Regions from separate parts of the Homo sapiens genome. Here all the other regions are linked to region 3. The links come from fine-mapping of genetic effects on gene expression. A gene starts in region 3. Each other region holds a variant in brackets. All regions are shown on one strand. Distances are from middle to middle.

Evidence for each region. PIP is the estimated chance that this variant, and not a neighbour inherited with it, causes the effect. A credible set is the group of variants that fine-mapping cannot tell apart.
Region 1: its variant is the best candidate, but not a certain one, in a credible set for the expression of BMERB1 in whole blood (TOPMed, PIP 0.58).
Region 2: its variant is the best candidate, but not a certain one, in a credible set for the expression of BMERB1 in skeletal muscle (GTEx, PIP 0.72).

Annotation. Positions count from the first base shown.
Region 1 is chr16:15,283,835-15,288,073 of GRCh38, forward strand. All of the region lies in intron 2 of LOC105371097 (a long non-coding RNA gene), which reads right to left. Among named protein-coding and RNA genes, the nearest start is that of NPIPA5, 92 kb to the right of the region's middle. The variant C/G (reference allele first, on the strand shown) is at 2,232.
Region 2 is chr16:15,403,128-15,407,366 of GRCh38, forward strand. All of the region lies in intron 1 of MPV17L-BMERB1 (MPV17L-BMERB1 readthrough), which reads left to right. The region is part of intron 2 of MPV17L (MPV17 mitochondrial inner membrane protein like); the gene reads left to right. Among named protein-coding and RNA genes, the nearest start is that of MPV17L-BMERB1, 9.5 kb to the left of the region's middle. The variant T/C (reference allele first, on the strand shown) is at 1,823.
Region 3 is chr16:15,432,591-15,436,829 of GRCh38, forward strand. It overlaps BMERB1 (bMERB domain containing 1), which reads left to right and starts at 1,998. Exons shown (of 6, transcript NM_033201.3): 1 at 1,998-2,169. The coding sequence starts at 2,064. The region is part of intron 1 of MPV17L-BMERB1 (MPV17L-BMERB1 readthrough); the gene reads left to right. RefSeq lists an enhancer at 2,302-2,924.

The DNA of each region.
Region 1 (4,239 bases), 150 kb before region 3:
TAGAACCAGAAACCACCTCCACCTGCACCCCTGCATAGGACCTAAAAAAATGTCATAGGACCATGACAACTTTTTTGAGACAGGGTCTCAGTCTGCCACCCAGGATGAAGAGCAGTGGTGCAATCATAGCTCACTGCAGCCTCAACCTCCTGGGCTAATGCTATCCTCCCATCTCAGCCTCCCAAGTAGCTGGGGGCATGCACCACATCTGGCTAATTTTTTGACTTTTTTTTTTTTTTTTTTTTGGAGAGATGGGGTCTCACTTCGTTGCCCAGGCCGGTCTCTAACTCCTGGGCTCATCAGGAGTTAGATGATCACCCAGATGAACAACAGGGACCTCATCCCTCCCCAGGGGTCCTGGGGTAGGACCCTCAGCAGATGAGAGGAGTAGCTCTCCTGGCCCATACCCATGCCCTGTTGTGGTGTTTATAAGCCTGTCATAGGTCAGGTTTCTAGAGAGACAAGCTGTGGGATGGAGATCTGGGTGCAGGGGGTTTACTGGGAGGAGCACCTGCTGGAAAGCAAGGAAGCAGCATTGGGCAGAGAGGGGAGTGGCACTGTGGAACAGTCGCCAGGACCCCTGAGACACCCCCTGTGATGGTTAATACTGAGTGTCAACTTAATTGGATTGAAGGATACAAAGTATTGTTTCTGGATGTGTCTGTGAGGGTGTTGCCAAAAAAGATTAATATTTGAGTCAGTGGACTAGGAAAAGCAGACCCACCCTCAATCTGGGTGGGCACCATCTAATCAGCTGCCAGCATAGGTAGAATATAAGCAGGCAGAGCAGCATAGAAGGGCTTGACTGGCTGAGTCTTCCAGCCTTCATCTTTCTCTCGTGCTGGATGCTTCCTGCCCTCGAACGTCGGACTCTGAGTTCTTCAGCTTTGGGACTCTTGGACTTTTGACCACAGACTGAAGGCTGCACTGTTAGCGTCCCTACTTTTGAGGCTTTGGGATTTGGACTGGCTTCCTTGCTCCTCAGCTTGGAGATGGCCTACTGTGAGACCTCACCTGGTGATCGTGTGAGTCAATACTCCTTAATAAACTCCGCTTTTTATATACATCTATCCTATTAGTTCTGTCCCTCTAGAGAACGCTGACTAATACACTCCCATACGGAGGGGCAAGGGACAGAGCCTTTGTAACCCTCCAGGATTATGGGATGCCTAGGAGGGGAGGAGGATTTCCCAGCACTAGGTGGCTTCCTGCAGGTGCCTTCTTGCCAGAGGCAGGACTTTGCTATGAGCTGTTAGCAGCTAGGTCTCCCAGCAGCTGGGGGGACAGAGGGCCTCGGTGGTCCTGCACAGAGGTCTGAGTGGTGCAGCACCCACAGCGAAGCCAGTGACCAAAGTGGAAAGATAAAGATATGAAAATCTTTCAACTAATTAAGATTTAAAACTCAGATTGATGTGAGGATCCTGAATTGACTGTTTACCAAAGAGACTAGGTTTTAAATGAGAAGGGTCTGGGTTTACATTGACTTGGCAAGACTGAGTGTCCTATCACTGGAGTGACAAGGGAGGCTGGTGGGGATGGATCCAGGGAAAAGAAGCAAAGTATGGAACAAAGAAGTTTAGAATAAAGAAAGTGGCCAAGGCTGGGCGCCACGGTTCACACCTGTAATCCCAGGGTGGCCAAGGCAGGAAGATTGCTTGAGCCCAGAAGTTCAAGGCTGCAGTGAGCTATGATCATGCCACTGCACTCCAGCCTGGGTAACAAAGCAAGAAAAAAAAAAAGCAAGAAAGGAAGGGAGGGATGGAGGAAGGAAGGAAGGGAGAGAGGGAAAGAGAGAGAGAAAGAGGAAAGAAAGAAAAAGAAAGAAGAAGGAAAAAAGAAAGAAGAACGAAAGAAAGAAAGGAAGGAAGGAAGGAAGGAAGAAAGAAAGAAAGAAAGAAAGAAAGAAAGAAAGAAAAAAAGACAGAGAGAGACAGAAAGAAAGAAAGAAAGAAAGAAAGAAAGAAAGAAAGAAAGAAAGAAAGAAAGAAAGAAAGAAAGAAAGAGGCATCAAACCTCACAGGTTGAGGTAACTGTAAATACACGGTAGTTTATCCCTGAGCACAAAATCTCAATGGCACAGTCAAAGCCCCAAAGAAGTAAGAAACAAACATCATTTCCACCTTTTGGGCCTGAAGAAGCAGGTACATTAGAGAAGGGCAGCCACAATATCTGTGAACAGTCATTAAGCTCTCAGACACAGCATCCCACCTTCACCAATCTGATCTCCTTGA[C/G]GGGGGTGATGCTCCCTCCAAGATAACAAAGAAAACCTGGCCAGGCACAGTGGCCCACGTCTGTAATCCCAGCATTTTGGAAGGCTGAGGCAGGAGGATTGCTAGAGCCCAGGAGTTCAAGACCAGCCTGGGCAACATAGTGAGACCCCTGTCTCTTAATAAAATAAGAAAAAAGAAAAGGAAACCTTCCCTTTACATGAAGGCATCATACCTTAAATGCACATCCCATCTGCCCAGGAGGCTCACCTCTAGATTTGTATCCTACTGATGAACACACACCAAGATGGACATACTAGCATAAATTGTGGAGAATGACAGAAAATATCCTGAATGTCCACCATGAGGGAACTGATTAATTTATACACATCCGTATACTGGAATACTACACAGCTGATAAAAAGAATAAGGAATGTCTATATGGACTGCTATGCAAAAACCTCAAAGATATATTGTTGAATGAAGTCAAGATGCAGTGTAATATGTACAATGGGCTATCATTTATAAAACCGGGAGGAGACATATATACATATGTTTTTCTATATAAAGATTGTATCTCTGGAAAGTTTCAAGAGAAGCCAGCAACACTTTTGACCTTGGAGAAGAAGAACTGGTGGTTGGGATGGAAAACAAACTTAATTTTCACTGTATACTTTTTCTGGTACTGTTTAATTTTTTTTTTTTACCATATGCACACGTTTCCTATTCAAAAGAGAATTTTTTTGAATAGGAAACAATGAAAAATCTTATAGGCATACAAACTAAATTAATTAGCCATCCCTATAGCTTCAACATGCATTTCAATTTGCAAGCACCCTGGCCTCCAAGATTGATTGATTGGCTGTAAATTGAGAACCTCAGCAATTTCCTTTCACAGGGACAGATGTTGACATTATTCCTGTGATTTTTCACAGATGTTTCCCTTCCAGCATCTTTAAAATCGAGTTTTCTGTCAATTTGGAAATCCCAAATTTCTCATATCAAATCGAGATGACAGGAAAATCAAAACCGTTATCACATTTTGAAAGAGTTTATGGATGGCAAATGACACTGGGAAGGGAGATGTTTAAGGAGCAGCCGACGTCTCTTAACCCTTTCTCATCACTTCCTGCCTCAGTTTACCTAAGCCAGCAAAAGGGGAAATTTGATTCAATATACAGACAAGGGCTTTAGAGTCTGCGTAGCGGTGCGATCTCACTTTGGCTCCAACTCTCTAGCTGTGATACTTTGAACCAGTTCATTAACTTGCCCAGCCTCCTCTCTCTCATCTGTAAAATGGGGATAATATCCCCAGCCTTGCAGTGTGATTTTACAATTCACTGATGCAAAAATGGAAAATGCGTGGCACTTAGCACCACCTAAATGTTTTTTCCTTTTTTTTTCCCTTTCCCTCCTCCTTCACCAATCCTCCAAGCAGCTTTTCTTCCTTCTTCATGTCCCCATTTTGCTCACGAGATTCCAAGATTTACCCACTGAAGCTCTCATGAGATTCCCAGATTTACCCATTGTTGAGAAATCAGAAACATCCCCCACCCCCTAGAATTCTCCTGACCTGTGTCCCCTCCCCTTAGGACTCTGCTCTCCCTCAGTGACAACAGGCAGGAATATGATCTACTCATACAAACCAAACCTCTGCTGTTTGTACATCTTAGCTAATAATGCCCAACACACAGCCAACATTTACTAAGTCAGGCTCTTGAGAGCCACTTCATCTGCATGACGCCACAAAATCCTCTCAGCAACAAAAAGGCACTGTTATTATTTCTGTTTTAGAGATGTGGAAATGAGCACCAGAAGTAGATGTAACTTGACAAATATCTGGGTGGTAGATCTGGAAATCAAAGAACCCTGAACCCCAACCACAGACACATCTTCAGTTCAGGCTGGGTCTCTACGCTTTGTTATTTTTAACGGGGCATTACGCTCCCTGGATGGCTATGATGCTGCAGTTAACTCTGCTCTTGTGGATGAATGCAATTATCTGGGGAGCTCGCACTTATAAGATGTACAG
Region 2 (4,239 bases), 29 kb before region 3:
GGGAGGTGGAGGCGGGTAGATCACAAGGTCAGGAGATCGAGACCATCCTGGCTAACATGGTGAAACCGTGTCTCCACTAAAAATACAACAAATTAGCAGGGCATGGTGGCACAAGCCTGTAGTCCCAGCTACTTGGGAGGCTGAGGCAGGAGAATCACTTGAACCCGGGAGGCAGAGACTGTAGTGAGCTGAGATTGCGCCACTGCACTCCAGCCTGGGCGACAGAGCGAGACTCCGTCTCAAAAAAAAAAAAAAAAAAAAGAGCAAGAAGTAGGCAGCTCACACCTGTAATCCCAGCACTTTGGGAGGCTAAGGCAGGAGGATCACTAGAGCCCAGGAGTTTGAGACCAGCCTGCGCAACCATAGTGAGACCCCATCGCTACAAAAATAAAATAAATTAGCTGGGCATAGTTGCAAGTGTCTGTGGTCCCAGCTGCTCGGGAGGCTGAGATGGGAGGATTGCAAGCCTGGGAGGTCGAGGCTGCAGTAAGCTGTGATTGCACCGCTGCACACCAGCCTGAGTGACAGAGTGAGACCATGGTTCAAAAAAAAAAAAAAAGAGAGCAGGAAGTAGAATTGGGAAAGAAGCTTCAGGCAGGGATTTGTAAATGAACAAAACCACAGGAACATTTGCATACTGTTTAAAAAAAAAAACTGGTTACAATGAGTGAGTCTCATCTACCCTCAGGAGAAGAAAGAGGGCAAACCAGTAGTCTGAAGCCCAGCCCATCTGGAGATTTTTTGGGAAGATTTCCTTTAAAGAGGCAGGATGGCTCACGCCTGTAATCACAGCACTTTGGTAGGCCAAGGCAGGCGGATCATGAGGTCAAGGGATCGAGCCCATCCTCGCCAACTTGATGAAATCCCCTCTCTACTAAAAATACAAAAATTAGCATGAGCCCAGGAGGTCGAGACTGCAGTAAGCTACGATTGTGCCACTGCACTCCAGCCTGGGTAACACAGTGAGACCCTGTCTCAAAATAAAAAAATAAAATAAAATAAAGATCTGAAGTTATGCACATACTGGGGGACAGGTCATTCCAGGGGCAGAAGAGCTGAGTACAGTTGACAATGCGTAAAGCACCATGGTATGCCTGGAGGGGAGAAACCACAGGCAGTTTGGTGTTCACAGAGTATTTGTTGAGCAACTTGGAATGAGTTTGGATCCTGGAGACTGTTGAACACCCAGAGCTGAGGATCTTGAACTTCACAGTTAGGTAATGGCAGCAAAGGAAACCAAAGTGGGTGGTTATCGTGACCAAGTTCACATAAGAAATAAGGAAGCATATCAGGTGTGGTGGCTCACGCCTGTAATCCTAACACTTTGGGAGGCTGAAGCAGGAGGATCCCTTGAAGTTAGGAGTTCAAGACCAGCTTGGGCAACATAGCAAGACCCTGTCTGTATTTAAAAAAATAAACATGGTGGCTCACGCCTGTAATCTCACCACTTTGGGAGGCCAAGGCGAGCAGATCATATGAGGTCAGGAGTTCGAGACCAGCCTGACCAACATGGTGAAACCCTGTCTCTACTAAAAATACAAAAAATTAGCCAGGTATGGTGGTGAGTGCCTGTAATCCCAGCTACTCGGGAGGCTGAGGCAGGAGAATCACTTGAACCCGGGAGACGGAGATTGTAGTGAGCTGAGATTGCACCACTGCACTCCAGCCTGGGTGACAGAGCAAGACTCCATCTCAAAACAAACAAACAAACAAAAAAGAAATGAGGTGAGTTCAGCTTGGGAAATGTTGAATGTCAGATGCCTTTGGCCTATTCAGAGGGAGATTGCCGAAGCACAGAGGAGAGTTCATGGCAGGGTTTAAT[T/C]ATTTTTAGCGCTCACATGTCCCAGATTCGGCCAGTGGGAGTTCCCCCAAGCTGGTTCCTGTGTCCTGTGCATCACCCATCTTCTTTCTCCTTTACTTCTTTCTTAAGCCACTTCCTTTCTGGCATGACAGCGTGTTCCAGGATCATCTTGTACTTGCACCTGCCCTGCCCTGGCCCTAGAATCAGCCAATTCTTTGAGGCATCCTGCTTCCTTTTAGTGGGGGAATGATTTGAGAACAAAATATACTACTACATGATACTACATTCTGACAAGAAAAAAAACACAGCCATAAGAAATAAAGCCATGGCCAGGCACAGTGGCTCCTGTAATCCTAACCCTTTGGGTGGCGGAGGTTGGAGGATTGTTTGGGGTCAGGAATTCAAGACCAACCTGGCCCGCATAGTGAGGCCTCGTCTGTATTAAGAAAAAAAAAAAAAAGAAAGAAGGAAAGCCATGTTTGGATAAGTTTAGTCTTCTGATTATTTTTGCTAAAGTTTTAATTTTTTTTTTTTTTTTGAGACAGAGTCTCGTTCTGTTGCCCAGGCTGGAGTGCAATGGTGCAGTCTCAGCTCACTGCAACCTCTGCCTCCCGAATTCAAGCGACTCTCCTGCCTCAGCCTCTTGAGTAGCTGAGATTACAGGTTCCTGCAATCACGTCCTGCTAATTTTTATTTTTAGTAGACACAGGGTTTCTACATGTTGGTCAGGCTGGTCTCAAACTCACGACTTCAGGTGATCTGCCTGCCTTGGCCTCCCAAAGTGCAGGGATTACAGGGGTATATTTTATATTTAAAGCATATTTAACAATTAAGGGCCAGGCTCGGTGTCTCACGCCTGTAATCCCAGCACTTTGGGAGGCTGAGGTGGGCAGATCACCTGAGCTCGGGAATTTGAGATGCACAACAAGAGCGAAACTCCGTCTCAAAAAAAATAAATAAATATAAAATATACATTATGGCCGGGCATGGTGGCTCACGCCTGTAATCCCAGCACGTTGGGAGGCCAAGGCGGGCAGATCACCTGAGGTCAGGAGTTCGAGACCAGCCTGGCCAATATCATGAAACCTTGTCTCTACTAAAAATACAAAATTTAGCCAGGCATGGTCGTGTGCACCTGTAATCCCAGCTACTCGGAGGCTGAGGCAGGAGAATCACTTGAACCCAGGAGGTGGAGGTTGCAGTGAGCCAAGATCGCACCATTGCACTCCAGCCTGGGCAACAAGAGCAAAACTCCATCTCAAAAAATATATATATATACATACACATATACGTATATATGTGTATATATACGTATATATGTATATGTATACACACATTATATGTAATATCTACTTTTAAATATAAACATAAATATTATAAAGCTTTTATTGCAATTGTTCATTTTAGAAACTTCAGAAAATACAAATTAGTAAAAAGAAGAAAATAAGTCTGTAATACCACTTTTAAGGACTATTTTGAAAACCTCTAGCTGTTTTTTGAGATAAATTTACATACCAAGACTTTTTTTTAAAAAATCATAATGATGACTTTTTCATAGGACTGTGTAGGATAAAGCTTGTGAAATGTCTATCTAACATATTTTGTAATATATGAAAATTTCAGCTAAACTTGTTCTATAGCATCACATGGTTTCAATATATTATTAGAAAATCATTCCATAAACAATGGTTTGGTATATAGTTTCAACAATTCAAGGCTGGGCACAGTGGCTCATGCCTGTAATCCTACCACTTTGGGAGGCCGAGGCAGGCAAATCACCTGAGGTCAGGAGTTCAAGACCAGCCTGGCCAACATGGTAAAACCCTGTCTCTACTAAAAATACAAAAATTAGCCGAGCATGGTGTCAGGCACCTGTGATCCCAGCTACTCAGGAAGCTGAGGCAGGAGAACTGCTTGAACCTAGGAGGCAGATGTTGCAGTGAGCCAAGATCTTGCCACTGCACTCCAGACTAAGCGACAGAATGAGATTCCATCTCAAACAAAATAAATAAATAAAATAATTCAGCAGGATGAGGTGGCTCATGCCTATAACCCCAGCACTTTGGGAGGCTGCAGTGGGACTACTGCTTTTGCCTGGGAGTTCAAGACCAGCCTGGGCAACATAGAGATACCATGTCTCAGAAAAAAAAAAATTAATTTAAAAAAAAAGAATTCATTGATGATTCTGTATTTACAAATATATTCCTGCATCATTTGTTCATGGTAACCAGGAAATTGCAATGCATATATACATGCTGTCATTTCCAAAGCCGCTGTCTTCCAGAATTGGTACTGATTCTAGTAGACTTTTCATTCTGGTGTTAAAAATATAATTAATATAGGAATGTCTTCTACCTAATAGCTTTTTTCCCCACAACTCCCCAACCCCCTCACTCTAGAGGCCTTAAGTAGTCTAAGTTAATCAGCTTAGTCTGAAA
Region 3 (4,239 bases):
TGTGGACAATTGGGAATAATCTTTATACCTCATCAATGAAAAAATAGACCAATTATGGTTCATTCATGTAGAATACTATACAGTAGACTATGAACCAGAGTTACATGAATCAGAATTCGTATTTCTCAAAAGCATAATGTGGGCCGGGCACGGTGGCTCACGCCTGTAATCCTAGCACTTTGGCAGGCTGAGGCAGGTGGATCACTTGAGCCCAGGAATTCAAGACCAGCCTGAGCAACACAGTGAAAACCTGTCTCTATCTTTTTAAAAGGAAGAAAAGCATATTGTGGAACAACAACAGAAAAAAGCAACTTGCAGAATTATAAAGTATGATATCATTTGTATAAATTATAAGAAAATGTTAAATAGCGCTATTATATATAATTTGTAGAGTTATACATATATACCTGAGAACAATAAACATTACATTCATGCAGCCAGGCACAGTGGCTCATTCCTGTAGTCTCAGCACTTTGGGAGACCAAGGCGGGCAGATCACTTGAGCTCAGGAGTTCGAGACCAGCCTGGCCAACATGGTGAAACCACATCTCCATTAAAAATACAAAAAATTAGCTGGGCATGGTGGCACGCCTGTAGTCGCAGCTACTCAGGAGCTTGAACCCAGGAGGTGGAGGTTTCAGTGAGCCGAGACTATGCCACTGCACTCCAGCCTGGGTGACAGAGAGAAAAAAACAGTTGTACCAATTTATACTCCCACTAGCATTAGATAAAAGTTCAAATTATGCCAGGCATGGTGTCTCACATCTGTAACCCCAGCATTTTTGGACTCTGTCTCAAAAAAAAAATCCACATCTTTTACAACACATGATTGTTAGATTTTTTAGTTTTTGCCTATCGGATGATATATTCTTATTTACATTTTCATTTTCCTTATTACTAAGGGGGTTGAGCAGCTTCTCACATTAGGCCTTCCTCCTCTGCCCACATGACATGACTATTCATATTCTTTCCCTGTTTCCTACTGGGATATCATTTTCTTTTTTTCGTTTCTTTTCTTTTTTTGAGACGGAGTTTTCCTCTTGTTGCCCAGGCTGGAGTGCAATGGCATGATCTCGGATGACTGAAACCTCTGCCTCCCAGGTTCAAGCGATTCTCCTGCCTCAGCCTCCCGAGTAGCTGGAATTACAGGCCTGCGCCATCACAGCTGGCTAATTTTTGTATTTTCAGTAAAGATGGGGTTTCACCATGTTGGCCAGGCTAGTCTCAAACTCCTGGCCTCAAGTGATCCACCCACCTCGGCCTCCCAAAGTGCTGGGATTACAGGCATGAGCCATCGTGCCCAGGCACTGCCATGGTGTTTTTTGTTTGTTTGTTTGTTTGTTTTTAAAGATAAACCTCTGGGGTTTCTGGAAAGTAAAGCCCCATGCTCCAAACAGCTCTGCTATACCTGTGTGCAAAATATTTTCATCTCTCTCTCTCTCTCCCCAAAGTGCATGCAAACACATATGGAACTGACATAGGCATCCACTGTCGCACTTCAAATTAAACAGACGCACACGACAGATATTCTCACAGAAAAGCAGTCAGCCAAGCCCAGAACCCATAGATCTAGGTCCACACTCACGCCTCTGCATGCTCCCCAGAAAGACGGATGCATCGCCCGCAGGTAGAGACGGGCTCACCAATCCCACTCAAAACCCGCTGCCGGCTTACAGCTCGCAAGCCGCCCACAGTGCCAGCCCCATGCCAAGCATCACTAGGGGCTCTAGAATAGGCAGGGGCCTTGTTCTCACTTCCTTTGTGTTGCTTTTATTTTAGTTGTTTTGTTTGTTGTTTTTCTTAGAGTTATCACCTGCCCCTCTGTCTCCCTACCCAGCCCCCAAGCCTCCCCTCCAAGCCTCCACTGCGCATGTGCCGTGCATCCCTGCCCCTTCTGGGTACCCGTAGGCGCTCCCGGGCGCTGGCGGCGGCGGAGGAGAGGGAGCAGCGTCACGGGCGCCCGGCCCGTTAAAACGCTGCTGGCTGGAGCCACCTCCCTCCCTGCAGCCCGCAACGGGAATGGAGTAAAGGGAGACCCGTCGACCTGGCCACGGGGATCAGCGATGGAATTAAAGCAATCTTTGTCCACCCATCTGGAAGCCGAGAAGCCTCTGAGGCGCTATGGGGCGGTGGAGGAGACGGCTTGGAAAACGGAGAGACTGGGGAGAAGTGAGTACTGGGGCGGGGGGCGGGGGGCCGGGGACAGCTGGGGATCCATGCGCCTGCGCGGGTGGTCGCGGGAGCGCGAGGAACGCCAGCAGTGGACCCAGGGAAGCGCCCCCGCAGCGGGGCTGGCAGCTCAGGGGGATACGCAGCTCTGCGCAGCGACGCGCTCTCCCCGCGAACAAAAGGGGGGGACCCTCCGGGCTGAGCCTCACTGGGAGGGTTGGGAGATGGCCAGGCAGCTAAGGCAGGAGCCTGGGCTCGACTTAGGAGTCCCGGATCCGTCAGCTCGCAGCTGGTCCTGTGAAGTCGGGTCTCTCCCACAGCCCAGGGAGGAGGATCCTCTCTCCGCCTGGGATGCGCCAGGGCGCTGGAGACGCGGGACCGTCCTGGAAAGCGCCCACGTCCCTGGAGAGGGGGGAGTGTCTGCTGGTTTTCCGCTTGCTTTCCTACCCCCTGCGTGAGGTTTCGGAGCGCACCTGAAATTCCCAGCTTTTCCTCCCTCGCCTTCCTTGGGTCGGGGTGGGAGGCTTGGGGCGGCAAAAGGGTCAAAAGGCACACACCGTTCTCTTTTCTCTCTTGACTCAGTTAAAGTCTGCTTGGGCACAACTCTAGAAGGCAGTTTCGAAATAGACCGGCTGTATTTATTTACTGGTTCTCTCTGCGGTGTTTGGATGTCAACATTTCTAAGTAAACGAAGGATTTTGTTTTTCATTAATAGGATACAATAGTTGAAACTCCTGCCCTCAAAGTGTAGAGGCAGCGTCAGGGGCTCCAGGGTCACTGGAGGTCCCTGCAAACCCGGGGGCTCCCCAAAGCCGCTGCTCTCACATGGCTTGCCCACCAGGCTGGGAAGGAGAGGTCCTTCTCAGGGACCCGGCAGCTTCCTGCCTCGGCTCTGGGTCACTGCTCCGCGCTCTGCCCCAGCACGGATCTCTGAGCGATGTAGGGCTAAAGTATTGTGAATGTGATCTTATTCTGTCCTCACCTGGTGGAAAATTGTGTGTGCGCGCTTTCTTTCTCTATACCTGTAATTATGGATTTAGAAAATCTTCCTAGAAGGGCTCAACTGTGTTCTGATTCTGACGGGTTGAAGTTGAAATCACAATCCAATGTCTTAGTGGTTCATGGGCTAGGATGGATGTCATAGCACTGCCAACCTCTTTCCTTTTCTTTTTTTTTCTCCCTTTTTAACCTTGGTCTTTCTTTCTAGTTCATCCTTTCAAGACCCAATGACTTGGTGCTTTGGCATAATATCAGGGCGTCAGGGCTGAGGGTCTCTGTTTCTTTCTTTAATTTTTAAGTGCACATAGTGGGTGTCCATATTTATGGAATACATGAGATATTTTGATACAGGCATACAATGTGTAATAATCACATCAGGGTAAACGGGGTATCCAAAACCTCAAGCATTTATCCTTTTTTTTGTGTTACAAACAATCCAATTACACTCCTTTTTTAAAAAAGCCCAGCTGTGTGACTAATTATACTCTTTTAGTTTAGCTTTTTTTTTTTTTTTTTTGAGACGGAGTTTCGCTCTTGTTGCCCAGACTGGAGTGCAATGACACAATCTCGGCTCACTGCGACCTCCACTTCCTGGGTTCAAGCGATTCTCCTGCCTCAGCCTCCAGAGTAGCTGAGATTACAGGTGCTCGCCACCATGCCTGGCTAACTTTTGTATTTTTAGTAGAGATGGGGTTTCACCATGTTGGGCAGGCTGGTCCCGAACTCCTGACCTCAGGTGATCGGCCTGCCCTGGCCTCCCAAAGTGCCGGGATTACAGGTGTGAGGCACCCCACCTGCCCTCTTTTAGTTATTTTTAAATGTACAATAAATTGTTGACTGTAGTCATCGTGTTGTGCTATCAGATACTAGATCTTATTCATTCTATCTACCTATATTTTTGTACCCATTAACCATCTCTGTGTCCCCCCATCCCAATACCCTCCCCAGCCTCTGGTAACCATCATTCTACTCTGTATCTCCATGAGGGTCTCTTGTTTCTTACAAGCTCAAAATAATCTCAACAATGGCTGCCTTTTATTGCTAGATGACCATGTGCTGAGAACTCTAAAT